Linked DNA regions of Homo sapiens: region 2 is linked to region 1. The links come from fine-mapping of genetic effects on gene expression. A gene starts in region 1. The other region holds a variant in brackets. All regions are shown on one strand. Distances are between the middles of the regions. Region 1 holds the start of XRCC5 (X-ray repair cross complementing 5). Region 2 overlaps TMEM169 (transmembrane protein 169).

Region 1 (2,916 bases):
AAACAGCTCCTCCACTAGAGCTACAAAGTTTTCAGCAGCTGAAAGAGGACGAAAAAAGGAGGTGAGTGGCATTATTAAAAGTTCATGATCGTTTTAATCAACATTTCTCAATGAGGAGTTGAGGGAACTAGGGATCAGTTGCTCAAACTCGTATCTTGTTTATCTGTATTGAATAAATTCATTAATCCCTGGAACCACATCTCCCTCTAGTGACCCTTCAGAGACAACTACCACTCTTTTATGTTGAAAAAAAAAAATCACTTTAAAATTCATTGTAATTTCTGTTACTGATCTGGGACACCAATGGTCATAGATTTCTAGCAACACAGGGGTTCTCCAGGGCCCTGAAACCAGACAGCTTGGATTCAAATCCGGATTTCACCAGGAAAAGCCCACAGTTCTTTATTCCTCGGTTTTCCCACTTGCAAAATGGGGATAAATAGTTTTCACTTCAAGGGGTTGTGAAGATTAAATGAGATAAGAATAAAAGGTTTAGATCCGTCCCTCACAGAGTGGGCTTTCAATAAATGCGGGATACTACGTTATTATAAAGCTAATAATACGACGCTTTACAGTTTAAGTTATTTTAGTCACAGATAGTCCCTCTCTTAAGTTTTACAACAAGCCCTGTGGGATAGTTGCTTTATCACAGCTAATTTTCATTCTCATAGAGATCTTAAGAACCCAGGCTCGGAAGTAATAGAGGAAGTGGGGCTAGGGAGTGGAATGGGATAAAGAGAGAGAGAGGGGAGGCGGGTGGGGAGGCAGGTGAGACAAAGAGCAGGTAGAGAGGGAGAAGAGGGATGGGATGGGTGGGTAATGGAAGAGGTGGAGTCAGCGAGGCTCAAATTCAGGTCTTGGAGCCCCAAATCTCCAGCTTTTCTCATAGCGCATCCCTCGGTCCCGGCCCTCCTGACTGAGCCCACCACCATGATCTTCTCTTGCCCCATTCTTTGTCTTGACCGCGATCCCACGATTCCTGCTTCCGAACCACCCTCTCCGGATCCCCAGTCCGGGTAAAGCCCAAGTCCATGGCTTTCTTTATACCTTATTCCCCGACCGCACCATGTTGCCGGTCCTCAGGCGCTTTGGTCGCTTCTTCCGGGCGGGAACCTGCCGTGTCGCAACTCGCTTCCGGTGGACAAGCGGCAGATAGCGGAAAGAGCCGCTTCGTTTCCTGCTAGGCCTGAAAGGGGCGGGGAAACCGTGCCCCGGAACTCTGAGCATGCGCAGATTCCCGCCGAGCTTGCGCAGATTCCCGCCGAGCTCGCGCAGATTCCGGCCGAGCATGCGCAGATTCTCTCCGAGCATGCGCAGATTCCCGCCGAGCATGCGCAGATTCCCGCCGAGCATGCGCACATTCTCTCCATTCCGCCGTAGTCGGGAGCGTGTGGTGTTTGAGCCGCCTGAAACGCTAGTACGACAGATTTACTTAAAGATTCACTTAATCACTTAAAGATTCACGTCCCTTTTCTCTCATTGAGAATAACACCTAAGGCATTTTGTGTCAGAGCTCTGGAGTTAGATTTCTTTTCTTTTTTTTACTTTTTTAAAAAATCTTTTTTCCTTTAATTTCATTTTTTCATTTATTTTTTATAACTTTTGATTTTTTTTTTTCTCATCACTTGTGGGTTTTTTTCTACTTTTTATTTTTGGTTATTGTGGAGTTAGATTTTCTTGAGTATGAGTATGAATGCAGAAAGTCACTTAACTTCTCTAAAAGACTCAGTTTCTTCTAAAAAGTGATAATGAAACACTTCACCGATGTGATAACCTTAGAGCCAACTGGGGAAGAAGAGTAGGACGTCCCCAGGAGCACAAAAGTAGAAGGGAGATTCTACTCTGCAGAGAAAATGGGATGCACAAACGCCTGGAGGCATGAGACTTTATCTGCTAAGGCTCTCCCAGTAGTTAGCAGTGGCTCCAGCTTGGAAGGGAGGAGTCAAGGTTTAATTTAGAAGACAAGTCTAGGGAGATATAGAAATAGCAGCTGTCATCACAGTGCTTTACTTGATCACGAGCCCTTTGTCCAGCCCGCATCCCCTACCCCTTTGAGGGAGGCAGGCCCAAGCAGTACCTTGCATAGAAATGACTGCTTTCTATACCATATGACCCCCAGCTGACAGGTGGCTGGACGAAGGGTCTGGCAACCTGCAAAGTGTCTGCAAACCTCTGCCCAAACTGAGAAAATCAAGTCCAATCAATATTCTCTCCTGCTTGAAAATTGTTTCTGGGAAAAGCAAGAATTGAAGCTGAAAAGATGTGGAGAATCTATGAGCCAAAATTATAAATACATTGAAGCCTCTAGAATGTAGAGTCAGACATATTCAGAGGTGCTCATAGAGCCCAGGAGGTTCTTCCAGCTTTTGATTCAAACTCAAGGAGTTACTTAAAAGCTGAAATATTATTTTTAATAATACTTTAAAGGAACAGCAGCGCCCTGGCCGCTCAGCTTTGCGCGGGCTGCAGCAGGCAGGCAGGCAGGCACGGACACTCGCCCTTCCCTGCGGGTAAGATTTCCAAGAGAAAGATCAGCTCGGCAGAAGGGGCGGGGAAGATCTGTGAGGTTGTCAGCTAAATCTCCTCCAGCAAAGGTGGAAACGAAGCCCAGCGGAGGCAGCAGGACAGCATAAATTTTCAGACAAAGAAGCAAACAAGGAAAAATGGGAGCAAAGGGCAAACAGGCCAAGTGGCTATCCGGGAAACAAAAGATTTATCTGTGGAAAGCGGAGAAACTGAAACAAGGAGAGTCCAGCCTCTGGTGAAGCAGGACAGAAAGAAGCCAAATCTGATTAGTATCACATACCATATCTTGTCAGTGGTCCTTGTCTCCCTTCTTGTACGATCCAGAGCTAGAGAGAGAGAGAAAAGGAAAGAAACAGACAGGGTGTCGCTCGGCCGAGGCTGGAGTCCAGT
Region 2 (2,916 bases), 22 kb after region 1:
CTCACTGAATTACACATTCAAAAAATATTTACGTATTCATTTATTTTTAGAGATGGGGTCTTTCTATGTTGCCCAGGCTTGACTTGAACTCCTAGGCTCAAGCAATCCTCTCACCTCAGCCTCCTGAGTAGCTGGGACTACAGTCATGTGCAACTGTGCCCAGCTTCAGTAAATATTTATTAAGCAACACTATGTGCTATATATTGCATAGTTGTTCTAGGTACAACAATTTTTGTCTGTTTGTTTGTTTGTTTTGAGACGGAGTCTCGCTCTGTCGCCCAAGCTGGAGTGTAGTGGCGTGATCTCAGCCCACTGCAAGCTCCGCCTCCCGGGTTCACGCCATTCTCCTGCCTCAGCCTCTTGAGTAGCTGGGACTACAGGCGCCCACCACCACGCCCGGCTAATTTTTTGTATTTCTTTTTTAGTAGAGACGGGGTTTCACCGTGTTAGCCAGGATGGTCTCGATCTCCTGACCTTGTGATCTGCCCGCCTCGGTCTCCCAAAGTGCTGGGATTACAGGCGTGAGCCACTGCACCCGGCCTGTTTGTTTTTTTTTTTTTTGAGACAGAGTCTCGCTTGGTCACCCAGGCTGGAGTGCAGTTGTGCAATGTCAGCTCACTGCAACCTCAGCCTCCAGGTTCAAGCGATTTTCGTGCCTCTGCCTCCTGAGTAGCTGGGACCACAGGCATACACCACCATGTGCAATTAATTTTTGTACTTTTAGTACAGACAGGGTTTCACCATGTTGGCCAGGCTAGTCTCCAACTCCTGACCTCAAGTGATCCATCTGCCTCGGCCTCCCAAAGTGCTGGGATTACAGGTGTGAGCCACCATACCAGCCTAGGTACAACAATTTTATGAAGCAAGTATTATTTTGCAGAAGAGGACACTTGGACTGAATAATAGTAACAACAGAAACTTATTGGATGTTTATTGTGTGCCAAGTGCTGCTCTAAGTACTTTACAATAATCGTATTGTTCAATATTCACAGCAAACCAGTGAAGTAGGTACCTTTATTATTCCCATTTAGAGGAGAAATTTGCTCAAGCTTACATAGCTAGTATAGTGGTGGGACTGGAACTGACACCCAGGTTTGCTAATTTCAAAGCCCATGTTATTTTCATTGTGCCATACTACCCGCCAACATTTATGCAAAGATCTATAAACTTCTAGAATGTTCTTTGATGAACCCATTTCCTATATTAAGGACATATTTCCATATACCTAATAATAATTAGTCTCTAAGTCCTGCTAGTCATTCCTATGAAATCTTTTTGTTAATTTGTTCATTTGAATTTCTACTACCACCATATGCCAGAATACAGCCTTCATACTACTTCCTCTAAACTGGAAGACATTCTAAAATGGAAGACATTCCTCTACCATTTTTTACCATATTAATGGTGATTAATAAACAAAACAAAACAATATTTTTATTTTGTCTTGCCATTACTGACTAAAATATATCTGAAGGCCTGTCTGGTGTTTGAGGCTCTCCGTATTTGCACCCCACCCTAGGATTCAGTAGCAATTTTCCCC[T/CT]TCCCTTTCCTGCAACGTGACTACTCAACACATGTGCTTATGTTGGTTTCTTCATCTTTGTCACGCTTCTCCACATCTTTCAAGCCTGGCTCAAGACAGACTCATTCGCTCACGTCCCCTTCTGTGACTACCCCAGCCCCCACGTCCTCTCCTCCCACCCTAACCCTGTGTTGCAGGTGTGTGGTGAGAATTCAATGAATGGCCCAGTATAAAATGCCTAATATGTGACTGACACTTCATAAATATTAGTTTCTATTCCCTTTCTTTTGCCTCCTTCTATTTGTAATTTAATAGCATTTGCCATCTGAACCATACACTTAATACTTAATTATGCAGCATTTCATATCATTGTATAGATTATAGATGGCATCATGAGTTTTCATTCATCTTTCTAGGTAGATAACAAACTTCTAGAGTTTAGGAACTGTCTTACTCTTCTTCTTAACCACCAATGGGAAAACCCCAGGGCTGGACATGTAGTACAAAGTCAGTATGTACTTGTTGACTTCATAGGACACAGAAGAGAAAATGTCTTACCAGAAATATGACATAAACAACTGTTAAGAAAGAAAGGCTTGATTCTCTTCCCCATTTTTGTATACTTTATTATGCTGTAAGTATTTGATCTGAGAAGCAGGTTCTAAACATTTCTCCTTCCTTTTAGATTTCACAAGAGAGAGGTTAAAAGAAAATTTTACCCAATTTCCAAGGCTTTAATCAATAGACTTGAGAGAAGAGAGAGGACTTTGTTCTTTTCTCTGGCAGTTAAGCTGTGCCCATCTTCCACTTCCACTTCCAGTCTAAAGATTATTAACAGGCTGGTCACGGTGGCTCATGCCTGTAATTCCAGCACTTAGGGAGGCCGAGGCAGGTGGATCACTTGAGATCAGGAGTTTGAGACCAACTTGGCCAACATGGTGAAACCCCCTCTACTAAAAATACAAAAATTAGCCAGGCATGGTGGCACACACCTGTAATCTCAGCTACTCCGGAGGCTGAGGTAGGAGAATCGCTTGAACCCGGGAGGCAGAGGTTGCAGTGAGCCAAGATCACACCACCGCACTCCAGCCGGGGCAACAGAGTGAGACTCTGCCTCAGAAAAAAAAAAAGATTCTTACAAATGTGATATTACAGAGTGTTAGCTTCAATCAACCATTAGCTCTGTACTCTTGGTCATTGTAGGAGGGAAAACAGGTTTTTAAGAACATGCTCATACTCTGGAACTCGTGCTTAGAATAACTGCTTTTAAGCCACTCTTGAAAAAAATTATCCAGATAATTCTTTTTTTGTTTTTGTTTTTTTTTTTTGAGATGGAGTTTCACTCTTGTTGCCTTGGCTGGAGTGCAATGGCGTGATCTCAGCTCACCACAACTTCT

What was found. PIP is the estimated chance that this variant, and not a neighbour inherited with it, causes the effect.
Region 2: its variant is the best candidate, but not a certain one, in a credible set for the expression of XRCC5 in hippocampus (GTEx, PIP 0.56).

The regions. Positions count from the first base shown.
Region 1 is chr2:216,107,589-216,110,504 of GRCh38, reverse strand. It overlaps XRCC5 (X-ray repair cross complementing 5), which reads right to left and starts at 1,157. Exons shown (of 21, transcript NM_021141.4): 1 at 1,048-1,157. The coding sequence starts at 1,068. RefSeq lists an enhancer at 812-1,433.
Region 2 is chr2:216,085,803-216,088,718 of GRCh38, reverse strand. All of the region lies in intron 1 of TMEM169 (transmembrane protein 169), which reads right to left. Among named protein-coding and RNA genes, the nearest start is that of TMEM169, 5.3 kb to the right of the region's middle. The variant T/CT (reference allele first, on the strand shown) is at 1,541.